Linked DNA regions of Homo sapiens. The protein of the gene in region 1 interacts with the protein of each later gene in a pairwise test. Each region holds a gene or a part of one and is shown in the gene's direction. Other genes may lie near its edges. The genes, in order: NDRG2 and CLN8.

Region 1 (16,351 bases):
AGGCAGGCAGGGTCCCCTCCCAAGAGACCAGGTGGGTGCGAAAATGTCCAGGGCTTTGATCACCATGCAAAGTGGTGCTATCTTCTAGGTTCTTTCCAGCTTGTTTACCCCCTCTTCGCCCCCACCTCCTCATCATCCTTCCTCTCCCAGAGACAGTAAAACCCACCCAAGAAGTTGACTGTGTCCAGTTGGCAGTGACTGTCCACCCACTGGGCCAGATCCTAAGTCCTGGATGGAGGCCCAGGGCCTCAGCTCACACCATGGCAACAGGCACCAGCTCCGAGTCTCACCTCCCCATCCCCACCAGCCTTCTCATGTCAGCCTCCCCCAGTTCCCTTATAATTCCCTCCACTCACCCACCTACTCAGGGGATATGGCTAGCTATAGGAACCTCCCTGAGGCCCTCAGACTCATGTTAGCCTCACTTCCCCACAACCCCCAGTTTCCAGCCTGCTTCTCTCTGTGAAATCATGGTTTCTCCCTTCATATAACTGTCCTCTCCTGCTTCCTCTTACCATGGAGCCTAGGACTGTCTCCCCCACACTCCCAACAACCGTAGTCACCCTGCCTTCCTTTTTCCAACCTCTTTTTCTTCCAGTCTTCTTACCTTGGCTCACTGGCATTTCAAGGTATCTTCTCTCACCCATTCCCCAGAGGTTCCTGCTTCCCTTCTCTTCCAGAAGCTCCTCCCAAATCCCCCAGACTCCAGAGTCTGCCCCTGACCAGGCAGCGAATGAGGCAGGCCCGGCTCTAATCGAACATAAATTTCTAAAACCACATCTGAGTATGTAAGATGTAACCATTGGGGGAAACTGGGTGAAGGGCACACGAGCCCCCTCTGTACCATTTTTTGTAACTTCCTGTCAACCCATAATCAATTCAAAATAAAAAGTTAATAACACACATCTGACTCTGTTGTGATTTAATTGCTTTTTCTTCAGTGCACCAGAACTCCTGCTCTTGGAATCCTGGCAGCCTGCCTCATCTGGCCATCTTCCTGAGCTACCCTTAGCAGTCAGTAAGCTCTTCTGTCCCATGTGCCCCATGATGGAGGTGATGTGGGGTAAAACTTAGTTCTGGGCTGGGTGTTGAAAATAGACTCTCCCCTTACCCCAGCTCTGGAACAAATTTGTAATAGAAGTCAGGCAACCTTAGCTGGCTTCTACTCCTCCACCCAAAAAACCTGAATTGCAACAGATGAGGAAGGTGGAGGGACAGGGAAGGATCTAATATGTGATATAGTCATAGTCCATCACGTGAGGAATTGCTACACCCTTTTGAGGGGTGGGGGTGGAGAGGTGGATATCAGTAATGTGTGAACACAAGTAGTAGATACTTTTACCTCCACATCTGGTTCATCTCTTTACTCCAAATATATTCTTCCATCCTGTTCTTGGAAGCAGCTGTTGAGGAGGAATGCTAACTGATGGCTGGTAGGCATAAGGCTAAGCAGAGCGAAGGGTGTGTGGTGGAGAACCCACCCTCCTGTGCTGCCTCTTCTCCCTCTCTCTACACTAGTAGGCTCATCTGTCCCTCACAGACAGAGATTTTGGCTGCTGCACACACAGATGTTTATTGTTTTCCAAGCTCCCTGGTGTTAAACATGCAGGGTCAGGGGGCTAGCAGGCTGAGATGAAGCTCCTCTCTACTTGGTCTTCTTATCGTAGGTGCCAGAACCCTTGTAACCACTCACATAGCCTGTGTTGTCAGTCATCTCTTCCCGTCCCGCAATGCCCTTGCCCTTGCCACTCTCATCAAAGCGCTCCTTGTGGGTGCCGGTGTACTTGCTGGTGTCTGTCAAACGGTCCACTGCACCCACTGTTGTTGCTTTCTGCAAGCCAGGGATGGATTTGAGCTCTCTTCCTTTCCTTACGCTGTCATATCCCTTCCCCAAAGATGGCCCGAGATACTTAGAACAAGTGCTTGGAGCTCTTGCTCTGCCACTGGCATGGGGTGCTGCTTTCTTAGGGCCCAGATACAGCTGTGGGCAGGTACTCTGGTAAGAGCCGTTCACTCATGGGGGAGGAGGAGTGTGGTGTGGGAATGAGTGTGGCGTGTGCAGAGGGAGGGTAGGTTTTTTGTTTCCAGAGGAGTTATTCTGACTAGGCTGCTGCCTGAGGACTTCACTCCCACTCCCCGACTCAATATCCACTGTAGAAAGAGCTTTTAGTTCAGACAGGACAATTAAAAAAGGGAGTAGGTGAGAGGCAGGAGGCCTGAGATTAAACCCTAAATAAGAATTGGAAGAGGAGTGGGCATCAGGTACCAAATTCTCTACACTAATGTCCTCCAAAAGCTACCAAGCCCTAATTGCCTGGCTCAGATACTAGACACTTGGAAATTAGTCTAAATCTACTATTAAAATAGCCATGGACCTTGGGCAAGTCACTTCCCTTCTCTGGGCCACATTTTCCTGACTTCTGGAATGTCTAGATGATCTCTAAAGTCTGTTTCGGCCCTGTCTCTACAGTCACACAGTTGGCAGGGTTAGGGAGGGTAGACTGGAACAATGGGGATTTAGGGAAGTAGGGTCAAGGGGATGAAGGCTGTCACTCACAGTAGCGCCAGTGGTGGCTGGGTCTTTGCCCTCCATGAGTCCATAAATGTTCTCCAGGACTTCATCTGGACTCTTCCCTTTGAAGCGCTTCTGGCCCAGTTCCTTCACTGCCTCTTTGAACTGTTGAAACGTGATGGTTCGGGCGTTCTTGGCCCTGGTCAGTTAGACAGAAATCCAGAAACTTTGGAGCATGAATGCATTACCTTCCAAGGTCCAACTCTTGCCTCACTCAGATTTGGCCTCTTTTGTCCTATCAATCAGTGAGTGTCTCGAAGACAAAGGATAGCACAGCGCCAGGTACCCTGTGGTGCTTGGTAGGCCCACTGCAAATGTTCCACCACGTGAACCCTTCCGTGGCCAACTACCTCGCAGGTTCTTCTCACCCCCACCTCCATATTTTTGGCTCCTCACTTGACTTTGCTGAACACGATGTCCACGTCCGTGGAGGTGACTGTCTTGCCATCCATGATGCCACAGTCTTTGCACAGCTTGGAGAAGTTCTTGTTGTTCATTTCAGTGCCACTGCTTGATGATTCTCCAAACGCAGCAAACCGATGGAATGTTTTTTCTGCCTCTGATGCCATGGTCAGCTAGAGGTCGGGGAGGGCAGTCGTGGGAGACACTTGGGGGTGAAGGAGAAGGGGGAGGGAGGACTGTGGAGTAATGAGGATGAGTGTTATGGTAAAATCAGTCAGCAACAGGAACAGCTCCCCTCTTCCCTGTTGCTCTCTCCTTTCTCCCTCCCAGCTCCCATTGCACCTACGCAACTACAGCATGAGTCTCCCATTCCCAGCATTGGAGATACCAGTGTGGATCCTACCTACTGAATGATCCTCTCTTTCCCCTACCTCTTTTATGTACCTTAGAGTACCCGGATGGTGGTCTGACCCTTCCCGGCCTTTGTATTTAAGTGTGTGCAGATATGTGGGAGCCGGTTGGCTGTGGCAATGAGGAGACAGAGGGAGGAGAGGGAAGATTCTATGACCTCAGCAGTGGTTATGTGACATCACTTCTGGCCCCAGCTACAGCCATTGCCTTCAAAGGAGGGGGCTTTTGGTCTCCCTACCTTGCATGCCGAATTGAGCAAACTGCCAACTTTCTGACCTTTTCAGATGATCACATTTCCATCATTTCAGCCAAGCTTACCCATCCTCTGGGTCCTAGTCAAATTGCCTTATGCTCTGCCCCACAACAGAAGCTGAGGCGAGCCCAGGGAAGGTGTTGTAGTCTGTTTGGGCTGCTAGAACAAAATATCAAACTGGGTGGCTTATAAACAACAGACATTTATTTCTCAGAGCTCTGAAGGCTGAGAAGTCTAAGATCAAGGTGCTGGCAGATTCAGTGTTTGGTGAGGGCTGCTTTCCGGTCCATAGATGGCACCTTCTTGCTGTGTCCTCACATGGTAGAAGGGGTGAATGAGTTCCCTTGGGCCTATTTATAAGGGTATGAATCCCATTCAGAAAGGCTCTGCCCTCATAAAACTTAATCACCCCCCAAAATGCCCCATCTCCTAATACCATGACTTTGGGAGTTAGGATTTTATTTTATTTATTTGCGTATTTATTTTGAGATGGAGTCTCGCTGTCTGTTGCCCAGGCTGAAATGCAGTGGCATGATCCTGGGGCACTGCAACCTCCAGTCCCAGGATTCAAGCGACTCTCATGCCTCAGCCTCCCCAGTAGCTGGGATTAGCCCAGCCACTATGCCTGGCTAATTTTTGCATTTTTAGTAGAGACGGGGTTTTGCCATGTTGGCCAGGCTGGTTTCGAACTCCTGACCTCAAGTGATCCACCTGCCTCAGCCTCCCAAAGTGCTGGGATTACAGGTGTGACCCACTGCGTCCAGCCGGGAGTTAGGATTTTAATATATGAATCTGTGGACAACATAAACATTCAGACCACAGCAGTTAATGAAAACGGATTAATGAAAACAGGCTGTCATGTTTTCTAGTCTCCAGGCTCAAGTGTAGCATGGAGAATCCCACTGGCTTTAAAAGGCCAGTCGCAATAGAAACATTAAATAGCTTCCAGTGTTGGGCCCAGCAAGCCTTGGAGTATAACAGATGTGGACAGGTCAGGATAAAACTGGGATAGACTGAGGGTGAGGCTCAGATTCTGAAAATCTTCAGATAAGTTTCTATGCAGGTCAAAGATGTTCCTCAGGGTTTTCTCTCTTCGGCCTTTTCTCTGGCCAGAAGCACTACAGATAGATGAACCTCACGGATCCTAAAACAGAGCAACGAGACTGGTGACTTTCCTCCTTTTCCCATCTAATAATGCCACCACTTTCTATTTTTTTTCTTTGTCTTACAAATCTATGCCTTTCTTTCCATTCCTATTGCTTCCACCCTTATTCAAGTTCTTATCATCTCATAGTTGGATGACTACTCTGGTTTCTAAATGATCTCTTTTCTAAATCTAATTCTTCACTCCCACCCACCCATAATCCATCTCTATTACCTCCTCCCCATCAGATTAATTTTCACAAAACAGTATTTTTTATTACTCCTGCTCAAGAATATTCTGTGGCTCAAGATATACTATAGCTTCTCATTGCTAAATCTTTTTGCTTAGCATTCAAGGACCTATACAACTAACTAGGCCCCAATCTACCCTACCAAACATCACCCACCTCTCATCAACATTATTCTTGGGCAGGGCACAGTGGCTCATGCCTATAATTCCAGCACTTTGGGAGGCCAACAAAGTGAGACCTTGTCTCTAGATAAATAAATAATAATAAAAAAATTAGTTGGGAGTGGTGGCATGCACCTGTAGTCCCAGCTACTGAGGAGGCTGAAGTGGGAGGATTGCTTGAGCCCGGGAGTTTGGGGCTGCAGTGAACTAGGATTGTGTCAGCGCACTCCCACCTGGCTGACAGAGAGACCCCATCTCAAAAACAAAACAAAACAAAACAAAACAAAAAGAACCCCAAGAAACAAAAAACCTAAGAACCAGATTATTCTGCAGCTGGGGTCATATGGCCTAATTGCTATACACTTGACAGGCTACTTGGGAGTGGAAGGAGCATAGTCCCTGGAGTGGAATGGACCGGGGTGGGGAAATGAATCCTAGATATGTCATTTACTAGCTGAGTGGACTTGGGCAACTCACTAAACATTTCTGAGTTTCAATTTTCTCATCTGTACAGTGAGGACGATAACACTAACCTTACGGTATTAGGGGATAATACATGGGAAGCTACTATTCAGTTCTCCAAAGTAACCTGAATGTTTCTGCCTCCAAACTGTCCTTCATGCTCTCTCTGTGCCTGGATAGAATGCCCCTCACTCCCACTCAAGTATTCCATGGTTGCACTTCTCATTTGGTGGTTCATCCTAGGAACAAAGCCCTTTTCCTTCTCTGAATTATAGTAAGATAATGATTTCTAGACTGTGGGCCACAGCCTCCTGGCGTGAGGATTTCTGAAATCTTGCAAAGGGCCCTAGAATCTGTATGTATAAAGAGTGAGTGTGAACTGAGTAAATAATATGCCTTGCATGTGTAGGTATTACCGCATTTACAGATGTTGTGACAGAAACTTACTTCAAAGTATTGATGAATTCATAGTTTGCATTTTCTCCATCAGGGGATACTATACCTATTATGTGGGGTTGGAAATCTCTAATCTCCCACTTGAGAAGGGTGGGAAACTACTGCTATAGGACTTACTGTCCAAATGATTGATCTTATATATAACTTGTCCTGTGTTTGTACCTTCTCTTGACAAATGTCAAAATGTCATTTCTCATCACAAATGTCTAGAGAGGGTGTGACCAGATGCACACTTTGAATTTCATCTACACAGTGGCTTGCACATAACAGATACTTAAAACTGTTGCTTACTTGAAGGTATAGTGTGAAGCTGCTCTGGCCAAAGGGAAAGAGTTTAGACAGAGATTGTCCTTGCAACACTTACACCCTGGTTGGGCTGGGAGCTGCCCTGACATGGAAGAACCATATCTTAGGGGAGAACCAGCCTTACTTCTGCCTGCAGCAGGCTGGGTGGGACCCCAAGGTCTAGGAAGCCAATGGATGTCAGTGGAAATTTCCCATCTCCTGCCTGCCCTGCGCCCCTGCGTAGGCCCCTTATCAGGTTCCCCCTGAGTCATCCTGACCCAGAGACGAATTTAGATGCTGGAACCTTCAGGTCCTTCCCTCCCCCACTCCAAGTAAGACGACTTTTGACAAAGAAAAGCCTGCAGGCAAAAGTTCTCACTCGAGGCTCTCCCTCTCCCCAGGTTCCTCTGGTGCTGATGAGATCTCTCCTGTCTTGCGCACCTTTGGCTGTGACCCTTATTCCAGCAGGCTTTTCCTTGTCCAGGAGAGTGTTAAACTGGCATCCAGAGGGAAGAGGGGACTAGGAGAGGAGCCAGGGTGCCCAGCTTCTGTGCCAGTTTCTGGGGAAAAAGTTATAAAGGGAGTGGGAGAAAGGAACAGAAGAAAAGTTGGGTGCTCCAAATTGGGGGATGTAGGGGGAGCTCCTTAGATTTGGGGTTGTTGAAGGCTGGGTTTTAGCCCGACCAGTTTTCCTACTGTGGGTCACCTCCTCCCTCTTGGCCTCTCCTTCTTTCCAGTAGACCCTGCCAAGTGGGGATGAAAGGGGCATTGATGTTCCTTGGATGGGAGGGGTATTGCGGGTGGTGAGGGTGGTGGTGGGAGGGTGGTTCCCAGGCAGGAGGGGGCAGGGAAACTTGGGGGTCTTGGGGGGGCAGTCGGTGCTGGTGTTGCAGTTGGCAGCTCAAGTTCCATTGGCCATTGTTCCTGACTGGCCTGGCGCCCAGCCCCCGAAATGGCAACTCAGGAACCAGTCTGAAGGGGGTTGGGGTGGATATGATCCTGGGATTGGGGGAGCTACAAGGGGGGCAGGTGGGGAGAAATTCAGTCAGGTTTCCTTTTGCCTAAACAACTTCGAATTCCCTTAAGCCACATTTTTAATCAACTAACTCATTCCAGGGAGCCTTCCTCCGAGGGGCACAAGGAGAGCTCATTCCAGGGTGTGTGTGTGTGTGTGCGTGTGCGTGTGTGTGTAAAGTCTACAGTGGCAAACCCACTCGGGCACCGAGAGGGACGCGGCAGACCCTGAGACCATCCCCCGGGCATTGCGATTCAGCGGGCCTGAGCTGGTCTCCTATTCTGGGCCGGACTGGGAGGGGTTAGCGGCGAAGCCACAGGGTCTCTTGGGTCCCAGCCCAGGACACTGCGTCCTCCCCAAGCCCCTACTCCACCCCCGCAGGGTTAACTCCGCCCCTGCGCCTGTTTACCCAGGAGTCAGAGCCTCTGGGGGTCCCCGGCCCCTCCCCCGCGCCCCTTGAGGCATTGACCCCAGAGTCCCTGTTGGCCATCCTCTCCCCACCCCCCGCCTGCCCGCGATCGCCCTCTATTTATAGCGGCCCCCCGCATTCCCCGCCCCCACCTCCCCGCCTTGTTGTCCAACTTCTCCCGGAGCAGCCGGAGAGCAGGCGTCGGGACGCAGCAAAGAGAGGAGAGGTACCAGGACTCTGGGCACGAGGGAGTCGGAACTCCTGCGCCCTCGACGTTCCCCCGTGCCCCCTTTCGGCGCCAGCACACCTGCCCCTGCCAGCCGGCGAGACCCCCGCCTCCTCAGCGGCGGTCCCGCCCACCTCCTCCTTTCTTAATCTAGTTCTCTGTGTTCGGGCGGGGGGAGTCGAACTCGTGGGGTGTCAGTATCCCGGGTTCGTCTCCCCACTACCGGTTCCCACCACTGAGTCTGGGGGCGAAGGAAGGAGCCAGAGTGCAATTGCAGATCCAGGTCGTGGATGGGGCGGTGCTGAGGGCAGCCGAGGGATCCCTCTCAGGGCTGAGGGATCCCCGCACTCCCCACACCGCCCCAATGCGGGGAGGGGGTGGTGGAATGTTTTGGTGAGCCGAGCAGAGCCTGGAAGCGTCCAGCCGCCCGCCCCTCGCCCCCCGGCCCCAGCACAACCCTTTCCTGAGCGGCAGTCTGGGCGGGGTGAAAGGGGGGGCGTGTTTACTGGGGGTCTGGGGCGGGTCTGCGGGGAGCCTAGCGCCCGTGGGCGGGCTGGGGCGGGCCGGGGGCGGGTCTGCGGGAAGCCCGAGCCGGGGCGGGCCCGAGTCAAAGGCAAGTGAAGGTGGAAGCGGCCGCGGCGGCAGCAGGTAGGGGGAGGGGCAGGCGAGGGGCCGTAGGGCCTGGAAGGCGCCAGCCGGGCCGGCGGGCGGTGTGATTGATCCGCGTCCCCTGGAGCTGGAGGCTCGGGGGAAAGGGCCAGCACGGAGCGGGCGCTCGGTTGCTGCGCACAAAGGCTGAGGCTCCAAGAGCTGCAGGGCGTGTTTGGGGTGCGCGCGAGGTTGTGTGCAAGGTCCGGGGCGCTTGGCACCGGCCACGCAAGGGTGTCAGTCTCCACGCGGACGGGCTGCGTAGGGACTCGTAGGGACGGGTTCCGGGTGCTGGGCCCGGCCGGTCTCCTCTGTCCTACCCATCCCTTCCCGATGGCGCTTGCCTTCGCGGGCCGTCGGGGGAGAACGGGAGAAGATTGTGGGACCGCTCTCCTCTCCCTTTCTCCACTCGTGGGACCTACACGGAGACTGAGTAGAGGAGAGAAGCGACGGCACCAATCTTTGTGTTTGTTTTTAAATTGTGGAGGGAAACAGCCATGCTCTGCTACCCTCCTCTTACTGGAGAGCTGTCAAAAATTTTGGGGATCCCCTATTCCCCCGCGTTTAGTCCCCCTGCAGATAGAAAATTGAGGCCAAATGTAGTAACTAACTGGGGCAAGGTCACACTGGGAGTGGCAGAGCCGGGATTCGAATCCGGAGGTTCTGACAGGGCCACCCTCTTACCTCCACATCAGCACTTCCTTCTCTCCTCCGCGCAGCCTGAACTGATGCCCTTGTAGCCTATATTGATTCCGGCTCGAGCCTAGAGAGGACGTGTTCTCTGGACTTAGGGGTAGACAGACACTGGGGAGGGTTAGTGACCCGAGGAGGTTGATGACCCTGGGAGTCTGGGTCTTGGCTGAGGCTTTCCGTCCCTGAAAGACCCCAGGTCTGTCTCCCATGTCATTCACCTCGTTGCTGTGTTTTCTCAGACCCCAGAGTCAGAAGGAGTGAGAACCCTGACCCCTAATCCCACTGCATCCAGCCAATAGGAGCCCAGTAAGTGACCCCACCCCGCAGGCTGCAGGCTCCTTCCTGTGCAGGTCTGTCCAGGTGCTCTGCTCCTCACCCACTAATGTTGAACTTGCGGAGTTTATTCAGAGTTGGGAGGAAGGGTCTTGGGAGGAAGGGAGGCATTGGGTTGGTTGGACAGATGTCCCTTTTATGTTGTTTTCCCCACCTCCCCCATTGGTCATGTTGCTTTGGTCATTTTTAGCCCCCTTTGAGCTGCCGACTTTGGGGCTTTAATTGAAGGTCATGGTCAATTGTGAACTCTCACAGTCCCGTCTTTTGGTACCCTGTCCTTTAGAATACTCAGTCACTGAGCTACAAGTTTCACTCCCTACCTGAGAGTGTGGGGTGGCCCCTAAATATAGCCCGAGAAATCTGAGCTACACTTCTGCCCCACCCTGGTATTTTGGTCCAGGGCAGAGGAGGGAGGGGTCTGGAGGTGTGGTGTTGAGGGTGGCAGTGGGGATGGTGAGTATCAAGAGAAGGGCTGTCCTGATTCCTCTTCCAAAGCTTCCACCGATCAGCCTGGAAACGGAGCTGGGGGCAGGAAAGGCCCTCTGTGTGTTCTAGAGTAGTCTTCAACCCCTGGGTCCCTCTGTTCCCTGCATCTTCCTGTGCTGAGAGAGGAAGCCTGGTGTTTGAGGCGATGTGGGGATGTAGAGACAACTTCCCAGTCTCATTTCCTCATCCTGCCAGGCCACCATGGCGGAGCTGCAGGAGGTGCAGATCACAGAGGAGAAGCCACTGTTGCCAGGACAGACGCCTGAGGCGGCCAAGGTTATTAGAGACCGTTTGACTCCCATGCCCAAATTCCAGACCTCTAAGCATCCCCCTTGCCTTCTAACTTCCCAAGCGTACTGATCTTATTCTAACTCACACCACTGCTTCACCACTACCCTAGTCTCTCTCCCCATACACTATAATTGGGAGTCAGGCCCTTGTCTCGTCACTACACTAACCTTCATCCTTTCCGTGTCTCTCTTTGTCAATCTCTTTCTGTCTTTGGTCATTTGTTGGTCTGTCTTTACTTGCCTCTCTTTGTCTGTTTGTCTCTCCATCTGGGACGCCACATGGTCATGTGTTTCTGTGTGAATCCGTGTGTGTCTCTCCAGGAGGCTGAGTTAGCTGCCCGAATCCTCCTGGACCAGGGACAGGTAACAGTGTGGGGGCAGTCCCAAGGTGGGAGGAGGGGCTGTCCTCTTCCCCAGTAGAAGGATGGCCTCTGCTTGGCCCTCTCTTCTCTCTTTGCTTTCTTTCCTTCTATTCTAGTCCTTTCCCTTCCCTATCTCTCCCCTCTCCTTCCTTCCCCTCCTCTTCTCTCTCTAATCTTCATTATTCTTTCTTATCCTCAAACTCATCTTCCGGTATCATGTTTTCCTCAATTCTTGCTGATCCTGTTTTTAATTCTTTGTTCCCTTTTCCCTCTTGCCCACCCACTCCCAGCTCCCTGACCTTGGTGTTGCTCCTTTTCTGGCCTCGTCTCCTCTGAGCCTAGCTCTTGGTGCCCTGTTTTCCTGCAGACTCACTCTGTGGAGACACCATACGGCTCTGTCACTTTCACTGTCTATGGCACCCCCAAACCCAAACGCCCAGCGATCCTTACCTACCACGATGTGGGACTCAACTGTAAGGACCTTCATTCATCTCCCACTCCTGTCTGGGAAGAGGCTGTGGGGGAAGGGTAGAAATGAAACCCAGAGGGAGGGGAGGGGTCAGTGTGGGAAGGAGAAGTTCTCTCCTGGTCTGACTGTGGCATGAAAGGAAGGGTGAGTTCTGACTGGGGGACACGAGTCCCTGTCTGATTCTATTGTTGAGGTGATGTGGGTTCTCTTTAGATAAATCTTGCTTCCAGCCACTGTTTCAGTTCGAGGACATGCAGGAAATCATTCAGAACTTTGTGCGGGTTCATGTGGATGCCCCTGGAATGGAAGAGGGAGCCCCTGTGTTCCCTTTGGGGTAAGAGTTAGGTCGTTACTGCTTCACCAGACTGTGAGGAACAGGACAGGTGCGGGAAAGGTTCGACTGGGGAGGAGGAAAGGGAGGGCAGTGGTTATTCTGGGAGAGAATGAGTAGGACATCCTGAGGTGGGGGGTGTGAGGGCAGGTTGGTATCTTCCTTAACATGCCTCTCTTTTCCAGATATCAGTACCCATCTCTGGACCAGCTTGCAGACATGATCCCTTGCGTCCTGCAGTACCTAAAGTGAGAGGCCTGGGAACCCCTCCAAACCAGAGTTCTCTTTCCAGCACAAGGAGACCCTTAGAACTTCCAGGTTCACCGTGGTTCCTGAGCCAGTTTCAGCTTCTGAACTCAATATATCTTCTTCCTTCATGCTCCCGCCTTGATTATTGAGAAAAGGTGGTGGGTTTGGAAAATTGGCCAGAGTCAACAGAATAGCCCTAATGGGTGGAGGGAAGGAAAAGGGTCTATGCTTGGCCCTGCCTCAGGCTAAGGAGGGCCTTCTCTGATCAGAAAGTCAGGGAGGAATGAAAGGGGGTGACATAATCCCTGAGGAACCAGATAGACCTGTCTCTTTCTCTCCCACTCCCCTCTCCTTCATGCCCACACCTGGTGGATGGGGAGCTCTGCGGGTGAGAGAGAGTTGGGGAAGGAAGAGAACACCAGACCAAGTGTCTTTGGTATTCAGAGGGAGGTGCTGGCCCCTGGGTGCTGTTCTTAGCTAAGCTTCTCCTAGGCACCAGGGCTCAGCAGCTCTGGTTCACCACTTTGCCACTCTTTTCCTCATTCTCTCCATTGTTCACTAAAATTGTGTCTGTTTTCACATTTGCTTTAAGTTCCATTCTTCCCGTTCCTCTAGAGGAACCAGGAACTAAAGCAGAACAAGTTGAACTGGCTCTTGAAAATTGAGAATGGACAAAGAGCTATCTATATGGGAAAACAGTGTGTTGGTTGGCTGGTGGATGGGTGTTTGTTTTTAAGACACTAGCTCTCCAGCAGAAAGCTGGGGATAGACTTCAGGTATCTACCCTGACTACCCGTGCCAACCTTTGGCTTCTTGGGCCCTTCTTTTTCGCGTCCTCCAAAGAAAGGTCCGTGTCTGCCTTTCTTTGTGCCCGTGGACTCAGGAGGGAGGGTGAAGAGTTTGAAGAGATGGGCTGTGGCAGGTTTTGGACAGCAGATCCCATGAGGCGTATATTTCTTTCCCTTTCACAGTTTCTCTACAATAATTGGAGTTGGTGTTGGAGCTGGAGCCTACATCCTGGCGAGATATGCTGTAAGAAATAAAAAGCCCAGAGGAGGGAAAGGAGGGTCCAGACTGATTAGGAGAATACTGTTTATTAGTGCTGTTTGGGGGAGGAAGTGGGCACTAGGTGGGGAGTCAGGCCCTGTGGGAGTCCAGGAGTGGGTCGAGCTTAGCGGGGAGGGGATAAGGCCATGCCCTGTTTCTCATTTCCTTCCTTCTGCTGTCCCTCAGCTTAACCACCCGGACACTGTTGAAGGTCTTGTCCTCATCAACATTGATCCCAATGCCAAGGGTTGGATGGATTGGGCAGCCCACAAGGTTTGGAGGGGCCTGTGTGCTGAGACCTACGGTTGGGGATCCCCTCGTATGGATCCAGTTAGGCTCTGGTAGATAGCCTAACTGGATGGACTCTGAACTTCAAGGAGGGAGTAAAGGGGCAGGAAAGTGAAGCTGTCACTTTGCCTGAGTCTCTTATAATATCCTGAACTTTCTTTTTCTTTTTCTTTTTTTTTTTTTTTTTGAGATGGTGTCTCACTCTGTTGCCAAGGCTGGAGTGCAGTGGCTTGATCTTGGCTCACTGCAACCTCTGCTTCCTGGGTTCAAGTGATTCTCCTGCCTCAGCCTCCCAAGTAGCTGGGATTACAGGCACCCGCCACCACGCCTGGCTAATATTTGTATTATTAGTAGAGATGGGGTTTCACCATCTTGGCCAGGGTGGTCTTGAACTCCTGACCTCGTGATCCACCCGCCTCGGCCTCCCAAAGTGCTGGGATTACAGACGTGAGCCACTGTGCCTGGCCAATACCCTGAACTTTCTCACCTGCCTTCTCCTCATAGCTAACAGGCCTCACCTCTTCCATTCCGGAGATGATCCTTGGACATCTTTTCAGCCAGGTAAGTGGGTGTAGGAGATGTAGAAGAGTCGACGGGAGCAGCAGGGAACTTGAATGCTTGGGCTAACTTCCTTAGCTGGGACAGGATTTGGGGAAGGAAGAAGGCTTACCTCTTTTCCTCCAGTAATTGTTGTTTTCTCTTTCCATCCCTAATTTTTCTCCTTGTTCTCTCCTTCAGGAAGAGCTCTCTGGAAATTCTGAGTTGATACAAAAGTACAGAAATATCATTACACATGCACCCAACCTGGATAACATTGAATTGTACTGGAACAGCTACAACAAGTGGGTGGGCTGTGTGTGTATGCATGTGAGAGAAATGCAGAAGCAGTAATTGGGCGTCATGGGGGAGGCACAGAGGAGGAGAGGGAAGTCTGGGTAGTGTGCAATGTGCAAGGAATGCAGCATTTAGTGTGCAATGGGGGCAGCTTCAGGACAGAGTCAGTGGGAAGGATTGCAAGGGGCTGTCCCCCTTCTCTTGTTTACCTCCTTTGGATTATTGGACTCCCAGAAGTAAGATGATCTTGTGTCCTGTGTCCTTCCTCCCCTTTTGTTGCCCTCTGACCAGGGATCTAGGGCACAAGTGACTATAGGGGCTGTGCTTGGGGCCTGCCTGCCCCTTTCTCCTTTGGTTTCCACCTTTAATAACCAAGATTTGACCGTAATTTTTAGACAAAGATAGTTCCATCATGGGAGAGATAGCTTATATCTGGTTAGATAGCATTGCCCACCTAAAATTCCTACTCTTTTAACCCCTTTCTAGCCGCCGAGACCTGAACTTTGAGCGTGGAGGTGATATCACCCTCAGGTAAGACTTTAAGAGATAATGCATTGCCTGTCTCCCTGGATCTTCCCTAGGAGCTTGTGTCCCTTAGAAGAAGGAGAATCTTTTGCCAGGGAACTTCCTTGTCATGTCCCACCCCATCCTATTTGGTAAATCACTTCCCTCTAGGTCTTCCCCCTTTGAATCCTCTTGGTGGCATCAGCAGGGAGACACAGAAGTGTCTTTCCTCTTTGGAGCCAGATATTTTTCCAGCTGCACTCCTAGGCAGAGGCCAGTGAGGGAGTGCCAGGGGCTCACTGCCTTCTCCCCAACACTGTGTCTTTAGGTGTCCTGTGATGCTGGTGGTAGGAGACCAAGCACCTCATGAAGATGCAGTGGTTAGTAGGGAATTTTGGGGTGAGTGAGGGAGGAGGGTTGGGGTCCTAAAGTGGTGGTCAGAAGAGTATCTTGCCAAGGGGATGTCCTGTTTGGCACAGGGAGATCAACTTTGGGGCACTAAGAATTTGATTCCTGGTAAGGAGGAACTGGGTAGGGAGCTGATAGAAAAGGGACTGGGGTCTGGGTTCCTGGGTCCCTTACGGGGGAGGCGCCACAGTGGGCGTGACCTCATTCATTCAGCCTCCTGCTTACTCCAGGTGGAATGTAACTCAAAACTGGACCCCACCCAGACCTCGTTCCTCAAGGTCAGTAACCTGTTCCTGGGCCCCCGTCCACAGTCATATATCCTCTCTACATGCAGCTGCTAAGCCTCCAGGGCCCGGCATGGGAGCAAATGGGGTGAACGAAGAACAAAACAAAGGGGCTAGAGTGAAGAAGCTAGGGAAGAGAGACCCTTTCCACCTCTCTGCATGGCTCATTTATGTGTGTTTCACTTTTTCTGGGTGGTGCTCTCCTGAACAGATGGCTGACTCCGGAGGTCAGCCCCAGCTGACTCAGGTGAGTGCCGCTGCCGTCCATGGGATGGGGAAGGGACATAGGATACCGGTGGCACTGGGCTCTGCCCTTTGCCACACACCCGGCCCCACAGTGCCGCAGCCTCAGGCTCCAGCTCTTCCTCTAACCTCATCTCACCGTCTCCCTCGCCTCTTCTTACTTCCGCAGCCAGGCAAGCTGACCGAGGCCTTCAAGTACTTCCTGCAAGGCATGGGCTACAGTGAGTATCGGGACAAGAGCTTGCTGCACTAGAGGAGAGATAGGCACTGACGGGGTGGAACCGTTTTAGGTGAATGCCTGGACTCACCGCTATCTGCCCAATCGAGCTCGTTGATCCCCTGGCTTAGTTATAACTAGTCCATAATCCAAGGACCACACCCTGAGTCGCCAGCCCCCCTTCCCCACTTCCTCTCTGACTGCTTGTGCATCGTGCTGTCTCCACAGTGGCCTCATCCTGCATGACTCGCCTGTCCCGGTCTCGTACAGCCTCTCTGACCAGTGCAGCATCCGTTGATGGCAACCGGTCCCGCTCTCGCACCCTGTCCCAGAGCAGCGAGTCTGGAACTCTTTCTTCGGGGCCCCCGGGGCACACCATGGAGGTCTCCTGTTGAATGGCCCTTGTTGCCCTAGAGTGGGACCCAGCCCTCACCTCCCCCAGAGCTAACCTGGGAGGTGCTGAAGGGGCATTGGGCCACCGTAAGCAAGGGAAAAAGGGCAGATCATGCGGGGAGATGACCTTGATCTTTGATTGCTACCCTAACCTTGACCTTTAACCCGTGATTCCCCCCAGCTCCTGGAAGAGATGTCCTAATATCTCTTAGGGACCCAGACCCCT
Region 2 (14,795 bases), on another chromosome or scaffold:
AAGAAATTATAATTTTATGACTGTCTGGCAGGCTCTGTCAGTTTAGCCGCGCCGGACCGTGTCAAGCATCTAGGAGAGGAGTCCATGGTGTCCAGGCATCGGGGCGTCACACCTGTTGAGGAGTGGGGTGGCTTTGAATGCTGGAAATGGCTTCATAGTGAAGTGCCTCCCACAGGGCGGGTGGGTCAGCGTTGACTCTTTCCAGCTGCACACTCATATGCCGTGTGTCTTATTCAGAAGTCACATTCTTTTCAGTTGGAGAGAATTGGGCTAAGATAGAAAATAACATGATTTGTTCCTTATTAAAGCTTCCCAGCGTATGAAATTCTAAGCTGGGTGGGGTGGCTCACACCCGACGTAATCCCAGCACGTTGGGAGGCCGAGGCAGGTGGATCACTTGAGGCCAGGAGTTCGAGACCAGCCTGGTCAAGATGGTGAAACCCCATCTCTACTAAAATTACAAAAATTAGCCGGGTGTCGTGGCACACACCTGTAATCCCAGCTATTTGGGAGGCCAAGGCAGGAGAATTGCCTGAACCCGGGAGGCGGAGGTTGCAGTGAGCTGAGATCGCACCACTGCACTCCAGCACTCCAGCCTGGGTGACAGAGCAAGACTCTCTCTCAAAAAAAAAAAAAAAAAAAAATTCTAGACCGAAGTGTACGGCAGTGCCATCTGGTGGCAAGTGGTACAAAGACAACGCTGAGGGGTAGTGACTCCTGTAGCAGCAGAGACGCCTTGGAGTTTAACCCCCACCAACCAGAGCGTGGGCTGGTAAAGATGAAATCTTGCAAGTTTTTTTTTTTTTTAAATCATGGTACCTGTTTTAAAATGAGAAGTTATTATTCATACTGTGTTGCTCATTTGACAAAATAAGGTAAGGATTTCATAATCAGGTTGTCTGGGTTTCAGAGCTGTTTTTAATTGACTGAGTTACCTACAGGCACCCAATCTAGACCCTAATTCTGTGGTTGGTGTTCCTCTGTAGATTTCAAGACAAGTAGTGATGTCATTTTCTCCCTGAGCTGTAGGGTGGACCTGGACCCCTCAGAGATGCTCGACTGCAGGGTCCTGGGGTCCCTAGAGTGGTCCTGCAGCAGCCCCTGGCAATGAGCTGCCTGATGATGAGTCCCAAGGTACATTGTTCTACTGTTTTATACCCAGGTAGAAGTTACACAGCAATTTAGCAATGTTGTTAACAGACATACAGAATTGTGTGTGTGTGTGTGTGTGTGTGTGTGAGTGTTTTGATATAAACGTGCAATTAAAATTCAAAGTTTATTTTTTATCACAAGCACCTTTGAAATGTACGTGGAAAACGTCGGCTGCTCGTGAGAATCATGTGTGACTTACGTTCCTTATGTTTTATGGAACTCTCGGAACAGTGTTTTGTTTTTGTTTAGTTTTTGTTTTCGTTTTTTTGAGACGGAGCCTGGCTTTGGCTCCCAGGCTGGAGTCCAGTGGTGTGATCTCGGCTCACTGCAACCTCCACCTCCCGGGTTCCAGGGATTCTCCTGCCTCACCCTTTCAAGTAGCTGGGATTACAGGTACCTCTACCATGCCTGGCTGATTTTTTGTATTTTTAGTAGAGACAGGGTTTCACCATGTTGGCCAGGCTGGTCTCTGACTCCTGACTAAAAGTGATCTGCCCACCTCGGCCTCCCAAAGTTCTGGGATTACGGGCGTGAGCCACTTCACCCGGCCCGGAGCGGTGTATTTTGATTGCTGGTGCTTTAACTATATTGACCAAGGTGTATAGTAACCTATTTATCACATTTTACGAAGCAATTTTAATCTTAAACACATCCAGCAAATGGTGTCCCTGCTGAAACTTTTAACTGGAAACCTCACACCTGGCAGGCAGCACTCTCTGCAGCCGTGCCCTTGTGGAGTCAGCAGGAGCTGGTGTTTTTCAGCCAGACAGAGGCATAATAAAGTGACTGATGTTTACAGAACCCAAATGATGTCTTCCTCTCTCTCAAAATAAACTAACCTATTCATATTGCTGTGAATGCTTTATCTTGGAGATAGAAAATATAATGATAAATTCATCATGTGTTCAGAATTCGATTTGGAGTTGGAAGTGGACAGCCTAATTTTTATCTCACCTCCACTAGGACTTTGACCTTCCCAGGGGTCCACACTTTACCTCCTGTATCTTCATACGCGTGTGTGGATGCATAGAGATGGAGGTGCTGTAGAGAAGCACAGGCTCACCCGCTCCGTCCAGTGTCACCCACACATTGGTCCGGGGACCCCTCAGTGCAGAGCCTGAAGTTGGGGGTTTAGGGGTGGAAAAGGCTTCGTGAAATGTTAATGATGCGTACACCTTCCAGATGGCACAGCACTTTCCCATGGTCCTCACTGGCCTCAGTCTCCCTGACCGGCAGTGTGAGGGGATGTAGCTATAGTGGAGCATGGTACAAGCGACATTCATGAGCTCTGACTTCTTGGTGCCAGGTTGGTGTGAGCCTGGGCCCGGCCCACTCAGCGGCCCACATTGGCCAGCATTCAGCTGCACGTGTGTGCTGCGTGCTTCACATCCTCTATTGAGAGTTACAGCAAGTGTTAAACGAGGTGAGTTCACATAACAGGAATTCTGGAACTGCTTGAAAACTAGGACGATTGGGCAATATCGGCCTTAACTCCACCTGATGGCAGGTGACCCGGATAGAAAATGGCCCTGCGTTTAGCCAGGATGTGGCTCTCCAGCTTGGCTTCAGTGTGATCACTTGTCAGTGCGCTTTCTCTTTCGATAGTGAAATCCTTCTCTATACCTATGTTTTGTTTTGTTTCTTAAGTTGGGAAACAGAATGGGCCAGGGAGGTTGAGTGACTGAAGACCAAGGGTTGGTGCAGCCTCCTCGCCGCGCTGCGGGGGCTGGGCCGCACAGGCTTCTGCCCTTCTCGGTGTCCAGGCTCCTTGGGTGATGCTGGAGTTGTCATGGCCGCAGTTCAGTGTGAGATTTTTTACCAGGTATTGCGCTTAAGGGACATGATTTTCCATTTTCTTCGCCCGGACAACTTGAATGAAATGGGCACTGTTGATTCCACTTCTGTCGAGGAGCTTCGGGGCTCAGAGAGGTGATGACGTGCCCAAGGTGACGCAACTCGTGAACAGCCGTGCCTGCCTTGGGCGCAGCCTCCGGCGCCAGAGCTGGGCTCTTCAACACGGCATTTAGCGCAGAAAGTCGTGGTTCAGGCAGTATGGGCCGCTGTGACAAAACACCTAAGACTGGGTAGTTTATAAAGAACAGACATTCAGGCCAGGCACGGTGACTCACGCCTGTAATCCCAGCACTTTGGGAGGCCGAGGCGGGTGGATCATTTGAGGTCAGGAGTTTGAAACCAGCCTGGCCAACATGGTGAAACCCCATCTCTACTAAAAAAACAAAACTAGCTGGGGGTGGTGGTGCATGCCTGTGGTCCCAGCTACTTGGGAGGCTAAGGTAGAAGAATTGCTTGAACCTGGGAGGCAGAGATTGCAGTGAGCCGAGATCACGCCATTGCACTCCAGCCTGGGTGACACAGTGAGACTCCATCTCAAAAAAAAAAAAAGAACGGACATCATTTCTCACAGTTCTGGAGGCTGGAAGTCCAAGATAAAGGTGTGGGCTGATTAGTTTCTGCTGGGAACACTGCATCCTCACGTGGTGGAGGGGATGGAAGGTCAACAGGCCTCAGCTAGTTCTCCGCTGCCTTTTTATGAGGCATTAAGCCATTTGCAAGAGTAGGGGGCCCCACCTCTTAATACCACCGCAATGACAATTACAATGTCATGTGAATTCTGGAGGGGACACGGTCACACTGCAGCATCAGCACCCGGTGAATGTGGTTCTCTTCCCATGTCCGAATTTTGTGAGCTCCACACGGGCAGGGTTGCATCTGTTTTATTCTCTGATTGATTCTAAGCCCCATGTCCCTGGCACAGGATGGCTGCTTGGCAGTAGGGAGTGGATGAACCAGTAGTACCCAGGGCTGCCAGGCAGGGCCCTGCAGGGGACAGACCCAAGGGCTGATATGGGGACACCTGCTGAGGGGGGAATTTACCACGGTAAGGGCAGGGCTGGGAGGCTGGGCAGCCAGTTTCACCCTCGCACAGGCTGCCTGGCAAGACCAGCGGCTGGAGGTGATGTCCTCAGTAGAGAACGGTGGCCACTGGAAACGTGTGGCCAGAAGGGGAAACGCTCGGGCCTCTGGTGGGGGCCAGCCTGGGGTGGGGTCGGCCAGGGTCAGCTGCCTTTCCTTCATGCTGGGGAGGAGATGTTGTGTGCATGTGAGAAAGCATTTGATAGCATGCCAAAAGTTTCCTCCATTATGTGCGTGTCAAGTGTTTGACCAGGTCAGAACTCTTGTTCTATGCGAATGTGCTCACGCAGACAGAAGCGGAGGGGCTCCGTCGCTCTGCCCTCACGCCGCTGAACCGCGAGGGTCTCCCGCTCCTCAGGCTTGCGGCTCGGCCGCGAAGTGTGTCAGGTGTGCATCCTGGGTGCTCCTTTGTGCTCTGTCCTACGGTGACACAGGCGGCGTGGGGTTAGACAGGTACCGGTCAGACTACGGTGACACAGGCGGCGTGCGGTTAGACAGGTACCGGTCAGATTACGGTGGCACAGGCGGCGTGGGGTTAGACAGGTACCGGTCAGATTACGGTGGCACAGGCGGCGTGGGGTTAGACAGGTACCGGTCAGATTACGGTGGCACAGGCGGCGTGGGGTTAGACAGGTACCGGTCAGATTACGGTGGCACAGGCGGCGTGGGGTTAGACAGGTACCGGTCAGATTACGGTGGCACAGGCAGCGTGGGGTTAGACAGGTACCGGTCAGATTACGGTGGCACAGGCGGCGTGGGGTTAGACAGGTACCGGTCAGATTACGGTGGCACAGGCGGCGTGGGGTTAGACAGGTACCGGTCAGATTACGGTGACACAGGCGGCGTGGGGTTAGACAGGTACCGGTCAGATTACGGTGGCACAGGCTGCGTGGGGTTAGACAGGTACCGGTCAGATTACGGTGGCACAGGCGGCGTGGGGTTAGACAGGTACTGGTCAGATGCACGGGCTCCCTAAACCCCTGCTGTGGCTTCGGCAGTAAAGACAGGACGCACCCATGTCACAAGAGGAGCACAGGCAGGGGTGTTGGTGTTGGGGCAGCCCTCAGGGTCTCCAGACCCCAGCCCCACTCACACAGCAGCCTAGGAAGGAAGGGCAGAGTCCCAGGTGTCAGCTGGTGGGTCTCCCAGGAGCTGCCCCTCCCTGGAAGTCACAGGACAGGAATGACAGATCAGGGAACTGCAGGAAGCTGCCACCTCTGGGGTCAGAATATGCCCAGCCTGCGGGGGCTCTCTATCGGGGTCTTCGAGAGCCAGACAGCCTGCCTTGTGCTGCATACCTGGCTTTGCTCTGTGCAGAACCCAGCACACGTGATTTTGTGTGACATGCCAGCAGCCTGGCTCCCAGGACAGGAGGCCTGCCCTGGGGGAGGGGCTGCAGGAGGAGGGGGGGCAGGCACCCATGAGTCTGTCCAGCCTTGTCACAGATGCATCGCCCACCCTGCGGTCCTGATTTCAGCTCACCTCAGAGTAAATCAGAATAAACTGCACCCAGACTTTCACGAATGCATGTTGACGCTTTCAGTTCACCCCTTTCTTTGCTAACTTTCTTCCTATTTTCTTCTAATGCGAGAGCTTATTAATTCCATATTTATCATTTTGAATAACTTTTCTCCTTTTTAGTAACAAAATGTACTTCACTCTTAGTAAAATGTATTTACTATTTTAGTAACAAAAATATACTTGCCTAATCATGTTTAAAATATAGTGATGTGAAAAATTCAGACGTCTCTATTTCCTTTCTTCCGATGACTCAACCCCAAATGTCTGGAATTGATTCCGAGGTATCCAGGACCCACAGCCAGCCATCCAAGAGGAAAAAGAAACCACACCCTTCCTTCTGGGAACCTGGCCAGGAACCCCAGAGCACAGGCGCCTGGCCTTAGTGACACTTCTTTTCCACATCTGCAGGCCCATGGAGTGAATTCATTTCTTTTCTCTCTGCATGTATTTTGCTTTTACCGTTGTGCTGTTTCACGCTTGGCAGCCTCAGTTAGCACTCCAGCCCGCCTGAAGCCGTGCACAGCCCATTCCTGCAGGGTTTGATACCTGCAACCTCAAACCCATCAAAAGAGTCCAAAAATTAAACCAAAGTTAAAATCCTCCATTATTACAGAAAGTTATTAAATGTCAAGTCTCAATCTGAAAAGTTTCTGCCAAAACTTTACATAAAAAACTTTTTTTTTTTAATTTAAAACAGGTTCTCTCTATCGGCCAGGCGTGGAGTGCAGTGGCGTGATCGTGGCTCACTGTAACCTTAAACTCTTAGGCATAAGTGATCCTCTTGCCTCAGCCTCCAAAGTAGCTAGGATCACAGGCGCATGTCACCATGCCTAGCTAATTTTTAAATTTGTTGTGTAGAAATGGGGTCTTGCTGTCTGGCTCAGGTTGGTCTCAAACTCCTGGGCTCAGGCAGTCCTCCCATACTGGCCTCCCAAAGTGCTGGAATTACAGGCATGAGCCACCGTGCCTGGCCTACACAGAAAAGTTTTATAGTCCTTGTAACGTTCACGTTTTCTGTGTTGTTTTTCAAAAATCATATGGGAAATGCAAAATCCCAATTGGAACACAGTGCATTTTAGCTGCTGTTTCATTTGTTGCAAGGAATTTCCAAGCATATCTGGTCAACCCCAGAGATTTTGTTTCCACACAAAACAATCACGGAGCACAGAACGTTAGAGCCATAGAGTGGTTTTGTGGCAACAGCCAAAGCTTAGAAAGGTGGAGGCCACCATGCGATATTCCCATTGTGTGTTTTCTGTAATTTCAGATTATCTCAAATAGAAAGCACGCAGCCCTTAAAAAAATAAAGCTCAGGAAAAATCTCATTTGCTAAATGTGGCTTTTTACATTTTAATTTGGAACTAGTTGCAGGACTGGAATTGCATTCTGCCAGCGTCGGTCCCTGGTCAGCCAGTCCTCTGCCAGCTGGTGTCTGTCTTCTGGCCCTTGGCATGCACACAGCACAGTTCTGGCCACTGAGAAGGGGAGGGCTTGCAGCTGAGTGCGTTTGCCTTTGCAAGTGAAGGCAAGCCTGGATTGAGGACACCTTCCCGCCCCTTCCTGCCTCCTTTTTCCTTGAAATACAGTCCCGATGCCTATAGGGGCACCTGCCGTTGGCACCATGAGGGGCAGGCATGAGGATCCACATCCACACTCAGGCATGGGAAGCAACGAGTGGCACAGCCCTGGGCCACCAGCCTGGGGTCCCATCACGCAAGGAAAACACCGGCCTGACCGCAAAAGTGAAGGAAACGCCCCACCTGCCGTGTTCACCTTTACCCTTTCTCACAGACGTTCCTAAACACACAGGATGAAGGTGTTAACCTGCTAACCATGTTAACCACGTGAATGATAGAAAGCTCTCCCTAGGAGACACTTACGGTTTGCAACTGTGGACTTTTAAAAATCATCTTGGCTGGGAGGGGAGACAGAGTGGAGGGGCTGGACTCGCCGCCTGCATCTCAGATGCTGCAGCTTCAAAAGGAGGCTTCCTGGTTTAAAGGAAGTTGCTCTGTTCCGTTTTATTTTTGTTTTTAGCTTCTTATTTTGAACTAATTTCAAACTTACAGAAATTTGAGGGGGAAAAAAGAACAAATCTTCCATATACTCTTTATCCCTATTTATCTATTTTTAACTTTTTGCCACGTTTGTCATAGCAGTGTCTCTTCCCTTTCCCACTGTCTCTGTCCCTCTCCTTGCCTCTTCCTCTTTCTTTCTTTCCCCTACGTTACTTTATATCCCTTACCCCTTAATACTTTCGTGTTTATTGGCTGGGTACAGTGGCTCACATCTGTCATCCCTGCACTTTGGGAGGCTGAGGCGGGTGGATCACCTGATGCCAGGAGTTCGAAACCAGCCTGGCCAACATGGTGAAATCCCATCTCTACTAAAAATACAAAAAATTAACCAGGTGCACACCTGTAATCCCAGCTACTAGGGAAGCTGAGGCAGGAGAATTGCTTGAACCCGGGAGGTGGAGGTTGCAGTGAGCTGAAATCACGCAATCTCATTCCAGCCTGGGTGACAGAGTGAGACTGTGTCTAAAAAAAAAATAAAAAATTCAATGTTTATTTCCTAAGAATAATGATATTCTCTTATGTAACCACATAAGCTATCAATTCAAGAAATGTAACATGGAGCCAGTACCTTTTATCTCATCTACCGTTTTCATTCCAACTTTGACGGTTTCTTTCCTATCCTTTTTTTTCTTGGTCCAGGACGGAGTACCAGATCACATGCTCTGTTTAGTAATCATATCTCTTTATTCTTCTTTAACCTGCTGCAGTTCTTCAGCCTGTCTTTGTCTTTAACAGCAGTGATATTTCTGAACAAATACCAGCTGGTTATATTAAAGAATGCCCTCAATTTGGTTTGGTCTGGTATTTTGTCAGGATGGAATTCGAGTTATATATTTCTGGCTGGAGTGCTCTGTAAACGGTGTCCTTGAGATATCAAACACAGAGACGTCTGTCAGCTTGCCCTGATTGGCAATGTTAATTTTGGTCCCTGATAAGGTGGTTCCTCCTCTGAACAGTCACTGATTTTCCTCGTCCTTGGGTATATTGCGGGAGATCTGCTGAGGCTGAGAACGCCCTGTCTGCACATAAAGCTGCCTCCTGCCCCAAGCTGGCCTCACTGGCACCAAGTCACGTTTGCACTCAGTTGGGTCAACCTTCACGGTGATGGCTCAATATTGCTAATTTTCCAACTCCGTCACTTCTTACTGCATTCTATAAAGAAGGGCTACTTTCTTCCCAGTGTTTGTTTATTATCCCTGTGGGTTCTTGGATTCTCTGTTTGGCAACGGTATTCTATTTATAGTGGGTTATAATTGATTGTTGTTGTGATGTTGCTGCTCCCGTTGTTCCAGGTTTGCTGTGGGGGTCTCTTCAGGCTGTTGAATCGTCCTTCTTTGTACCAGTCCTTGTTTTGAGCACATCCTTATTTTCTTTTTTCTTTTTTTTTTTTACATGTCTGCATTTCTTTTTATTATTATTATTATTTTTATTTTACTTTAAGTTCGAGGGTACATGCGCACAATGTGCAGGTTTGTTACATATGCATGTGCCATGTTGGTGTGCTGCACCCATTAACTCGTCATTTACATTCGGTATATCTCCCAATGCTATCCCTCCCCCTCCCCCCACCCCACGACACGCCCCGGTGTGTGATGTTCCCCTTTCTGTGTCCAAGTCTTCTCATTGTTCAATTCCCACCTATGAGTGAGAACAATGCGGTGTTTGGTTTTCTATCCTTGTGATAGTTTTATCAGAATGATGGTTTCCAACTTCATCCATGTCCCTGCAAAGGACACGAACTCATCCTTTTTTATGGCTGCATAGTATTCCGTGGTGTATATGGAGCACGTCCTTCTTTCTTTTCTTTTCTTTCTTGCTTTTTTTTTTTTGTGACAGAGTCTCACTCTGTTGCCAGGCTGGAGTGCAGTGGCGGCTCACTGCAACCTCTGCCTCCTGGGTTCAAGCGATTCTCCTGCCTCAGCTTTCCAAGTAGCTGGGACTACAGTCATGTGCCACCATGTCTGGGTAATTTTTGTATTTTTAGTGCAGATGGAGTTTCACTTTGTTGGCCAGGATGGTCTCGATCTCTTGACCTTGTGATCCGCCTGCGTCGCCCTCCCAAAGTGCTGGGATTGAAGGCGTGAGCCACGCACCTGGCCACGTCCTTATTTTGTATGCAGCAGACACACGCCTTCTCTGCCGTGTGGTTGGATCCAGCCCTTTCTCTGAGAATTCTGGTTCTTTTTAGTGAGGAATGGAATTTAGAAGTTAAGATGTGGGTGGGAGATGTGCTCATTGCTCATGGGCCATCAGAACCTCCACACCCTTCTACCTCTGCTGCAACCCAGCCCCACGGCACTTCCTTGCCTGCCTCATTCCTGTGCATCCCGTCTTGCATGGTGACGACCCCGGCTCACAACAGCAGAGACAGCATCACGCATGGCTCAAACACGCTGTAACACAGAGCAGGTTTGGAATGGCTCCACCCACAGGGCCACAAGAAACAAACCCATGGAGAGTTCCAGATCTGTTTGCAGCTTTTTTCTTTAGTCTGAGGGTATGCAGTCAAAGTGCTGTCTCCAAAAATTACTTAAATTTGTTTTGTCCCGACTCCCCTTCAGATGATGGCTAATCATTTGACAGACACTTGGGTTCCTTTGTTGGCATTCTGTTGTAGCATTTTCCCCGATTCTTGATAATTTTATTATTTGAATATGTAAAATGTCATGATTCCAAAAGTTAAAACTATTCAAAAAGCTGTGCCCAGAGAAATGTCTTCTCCTCTCTATTTCTCCTGCCCTGTTTTCTCCAAAAGGAACCAGTTCGTTTATTTTAACAGCTTTCCTGAACTATAATTCATATACCATAAAATTCACCCGTTTAAAGTGTATTTAGTGTTTTTTAGTATTCATGGAATTGTGAAACCACCGCAATCAATTTTAGAACATTTTTATCACCTAAAAAAAAAAAAAAAAGTATTTGTCCCCATTAGTAGCTATTACCCATTTCCCGCCCCCCGACCCTCACTCCCGCCCCCCCTCCCCCCGCCCCGCCCCAGTCCTCCTCCCTGACCTTAGGCAACTGCTATCTTTTTGTCTCTATGGATTTGCCCATTCTGGACATTTCCTATAAGGGGAATCATACAATACATAGCCTTGTGCAGCTGGCTTCTCTCACACAGCACCATGTTTTCAAGGTTCATCCGTGTTGTAGCGTGTACCAGTTCTTTATTCCCTTTTATTGCCAAATCATACCCCATCGTATGGATTGACCACATTTTATGTAGCTGTCCATCAGTTGATGGCCATTTGCGTCATCTGCCCTTTTTGGCTGTTATGAACAGTTCTGGGATGAACATCATGTGCATGTTTTTGTGGGGACATAGGCGTCCCCTCTCTTATGTATTCCGCTAGGAATGGAACTGCTGGGTCCCACTGCTGGTTAGATGCTGAGGAACTGCCAGACCGTTTCACGAAGCACCTGCACTCTTGGCTGCTTTACGCTCCCTTCAGTGCGTGAGGGTTCCGGGCTCGGCACATCCTCAGCAGCCCTTGTTACTGCCCATCTGCGTCGCGACCGCCATGCTAGTGGGTGCGCGGTGGTGCCTGAGTGTGGCTTGCTTCCCATTTCCCTGATGGCTGATGACGCTGAGTGACCTCACTGGCACCTGGCCCCTTCGTGTGTCTTCCTGAGAGCAACGCCTCTTCACATCCGGTGTCCTTTTGGCCTGGTAGGGTAATTCTTTGATCGTGGAGTTGGAAGAGTTCTGGATCTATTCTGTATGCACACCACTTATGAGACACCTGGTCTGCACAGACCTCTTTGCACTCTGGGGCTTGTCTTCTCACTCTCTTGATGTTTCTAGAAGTTTCTATGTTTCTTTTGTTGTTTGTGGTTTTCGGATCATATCACAAAAGGCTTTGCCTAACCTGAGACTGCAAAGATTGACACTCATAGTTTTTTCTGAGAGTTTTCTAGTTTTACCTTTTACATTTAGGTCTTTGATCCCTTTCTAGTTTATTTTTCTACTTAGATTAGTTAACCTGTTCTAGGCCGTCTTACACATGAAATCATGCAGGATTTTTTTTACAGAAATCCTTCTTGTTACAATTTCAGCATTTATATTTTTGAAAAACATATGTCTTTCATCTATATTTCCTAACTAATGTAACATTTTTTAAAAAGTACTTTTTTATGTTAGCAAATCTCTCTATATCTGTAGGGTCTTTTGTTCTATATTTTGTTGATTTGTATCTTACTTGCTTGTTTTTTGGTTTGATTGGTCTTTTTCAAGCTCTACTTTATTAATCTTTCTAAGAAGTAGTGGTTTTTTTGGCTAATCTTTTTGATAAGTTTTTATTTGTTTCTGTCCTTATATTCATTATTTCCTTTCTTCTTGTTGTTTTCAATGTATTCAGTGTTTCTATTCAGTTTTCAGATTTTTGTATTGAATATTTTGTTTTATTTTGAAGTTTTCTTGCTTCCTGTAAATACATTAGAAATTATAAAATTTCTTTTAAGTGCTAATTTAACATTGTTTCACAAAGTGTGACATTTTTGTTTTTATTTTCATTTGGTTCTAAATATTTTGTAACCCTCTTCTGGTTTACTTTTAAACCCAAGGGATATTTAGTAATGTCATTTCCTTTCCAAAAATGTGGTATTTTAAAACTTCTATCCTTTTGTTATTTATTTCAAAATTTATTTTACTATTACATTAGAACACACTTTGTTGCTTTAGAGTTTATTGTGTTTCTTTCTTGCTAAATACATTTTTCATGATATATGATCAAATTGTGTAAACATTCTATGCATTTTTAAAAGTATAGTCTCCATCGGATGCAGAGTTCTATGTAAATATAATAATTTAGAATTTGTATGTTTCAAATCTTTGATGTCTGCTATTTTATATGTTTTAAGAAATATCTAGTATAATTGCCAACTTATGTTTTTCTCTGTAGAGTTGTGTCAGTTTTTGCTTTTTTTTTTTGAGACGGAGTCTCCTCTGTCACCAGGCTGGAGTGCAGTGGCGCAATCTCGGCTCACTGCAACTTCTGCCTCTCGGGTTCAAGTGATTCTCCTGCGTCATCCTCCCGAGTAGCTGAGATTACAGGCATGCGCCACCATGCCCAGCTAGTTTTTGTATTTTTAGTGGAGATGAGGTTTCGCCATGTTGGCCAGGCTGGTCTCGAAAACCCTTGACCTCAGGAGATCCGCCCGCCTCGGCCTCCCAAAATGCTGGGATTACAGACATGAGCCGCTGCACCCGGTCAGTTTTTGCTTTTTTAAAGAAACATGCTTAAGTACACATGTGATCATGATGGTTGCATCTTGTTCATCTGTTTCCTCTTTCAGGTGTGTAACAGCATGCTGTTCGCTGATTGCTTTGGACTTGGCAGATAGCAGGGCTACTATCTAGTTTTATATTGATTCCAATTTGCCTAGTACTTCTTTTTCTATTTATTTTAAACTTTTTAGTATCCTTTACTTTTAAATATGCTTCTCTTGGAAAACTGTTGATTCTTTCTTTATAAATCCAAGCTTCGTATTGGTGTTTTAGCTCATTAAGTTGATTGTGTCTGGTTGCAGCAGGACTTTATTTCTGCCTCCTTCATTCATAATTGGCTTTTACATTCATTTCTTTTTCCCTAAGTTTCTCCTATCGATTTTAATGGTGGTTACCTTTAGTTTAAGATCCACATCAATACATAGCTAATCGTATTGATTTCCTGAGCAGATTAATATTAAATCTTTGGACTCCCATGTTGATTCTGTTTAAATATTTACTTTTGCATTGTTGTAAATGTACTTCATCTTCTCTCCTCACTTTGGTCCTGGCCTTTTTTTTTTTTTTTTTGAGACGGAGTTTCGCTCTGTTGCCCAGGCTGGAGTGCAGTGGTGCGATCTTGGCTCACTGCAAGCTCTGCCTCCCGGGTTCACGCCATTCTCCTGCCTCAACCTCCCGAGTAGCTGAGACTACAGGCGCCCGCCACCCCGCCCAGCTAATTGTTTGTATTTTTAGTTGAGATGGAGTTTCACTGTGTTAGCCAGGATGGTCTTGATCTCCTGACCTTGTGATCCGCTCGCCTCGACCTCCCAAAGTGCTGAGATTACAGGCGTGAGCCACCGCACCTGGCTGCTCCTGGCTTTTTTAGATAACAATAGACTACTAAAATCTATTTGATCTAAAGTTTTTTATACCCATAGTTCCTATCAACATCCTCCTGGATTTATTTATCTTCTAATTTCCTTGAAGAACGTTTTCAAAGTGAGTTTTGGAAAAGTGGATCTTCTGAGGCCTTTTATATTGGAAGATAATTTGGTATGTGCTTATACTTCAGTGACAGTTGAGCTGGCTATAAAATTCTATGTCAAATTCCTTTTTTTATGTTTTATTTTATTTTATTTTATTTTATTTTATTTATTTATTTATTTTTTAGACAGAGTCTTGCTCTGTCTCCCAGGCTGGAGTGCAGTGGCATGATCTTGGCTCAGCTCACTGCAACCTCCAACTCCCTGGTTCAAGGGATTCTCCTGCCTCAGCCTGTCTAGTAGCTGGAATTACAGGCATGCGCTGCCATGCCCAGCTAATTTTTGTATTTTTAGTAGAGACGGTGTTTCACCATGTTGTCCAGGATGATCTCCATCTCCTGACCTCATGATCCACCTGCCTCGGCCTCCCAAAGTGCTGGGATTACAGGTGTGAGCCACTGCACCTGGCTTCTATGTCAAATTATTTTCCTTGAGGGCTTTAAAAATATTACTCCAGTGTCTTCTGGCACCCATTGTGGCCTCTGGAAACTCTGAAATGAAACTTACTCTTTTGTCAGTGATCTGCTCTTCTTCATAGAAACTTTTGGAATTTTCTTTGATATTCTTGAGTTTCACTGTCAATTATGGGTAAGTTTCCCATCCATCCTATTAGACACTCTCTAAGCCCTTTCAACTTGAGAGCTTTCATCTTTAATTTTTCTGATTTTACCTTTGAATATTTTTTTCTCCATTTTTATTTTTCTCTGTTCCTGGAACTCCATTATCTGTACATTTCCACTTCTTTAATTACCTTACTTACCTTTAACCATTCTTTCATACATTCTCTCTTTTCCTATTGCCTTTGGGGTGAGTTGCCTCTAGCCTGCTCATCTGGCTTTGGCTGCATTTGGCCTCATC

The links.
Region 2: the proteins of NDRG2 (region 1) and CLN8 interact in a two-hybrid assay, tested with the Homo sapiens proteins (one study listed by BioGRID).

The regions. Positions count from the first base shown.
Region 1 is NC_000014.9:21,017,372-21,033,722, reverse strand, and holds the start of NDRG2 (protein NDRG2), read left to right. Parts: upstream 1-8,661; 5' UTR 8,662-9,693; exon of another isoform or gene 9,694-9,747; intron 9,748-10,215; exon of another isoform or gene 10,216-10,401; coding exon of another isoform or gene 10,402-10,407; coding exon 10,408-10,482; intron 10,483-10,817; coding exon 10,818-10,859; intron 10,860-11,225; coding exon 11,226-11,331; intron 11,332-11,540; coding exon 11,541-11,661; intron 11,662-11,843; coding exon 11,844-11,906; intron 11,907-12,878; coding exon 12,879-12,939; intron 12,940-13,140; coding exon 13,141-13,227; intron 13,228-13,746; coding exon 13,747-13,803; intron 13,804-13,980; coding exon 13,981-14,084; intron 14,085-14,562; coding exon 14,563-14,607; intron 14,608-14,908; coding exon 14,909-14,960; intron 14,961-15,059; coding exon of another isoform or gene 15,060-15,096; intron 15,097-15,201; coding exon of another isoform or gene 15,202-15,218; coding exon 15,219-15,266; intron 15,267-15,483; coding exon 15,484-15,519; intron 15,520-15,684; coding exon 15,685-15,736; intron 15,737-15,960; coding exon 15,961-16,127; 3' UTR 16,128-16,351. Other genes in the region: TPPP2 (tubulin polymerization-promoting protein family member 2), read right to left, coding at 1,646-1,831, 2,558-2,711, 2,969-3,141. UniProt on the Homo sapiens protein: Contributes to the regulation of the Wnt signaling pathway. Down-regulates CTNNB1-mediated transcriptional activation of target genes, such as CCND1, and may thereby act as tumor suppressor. May be involved in dendritic cell and neuron differentiation.
Region 2 is NC_000008.11:1,780,743-1,795,537, forward strand, and holds the end of CLN8 (protein CLN8), read left to right. Parts: 3' UTR 1-5,828; downstream 5,829-14,795. UniProt on the Homo sapiens protein: Could play a role in cell proliferation during neuronal differentiation and in protection against cell death.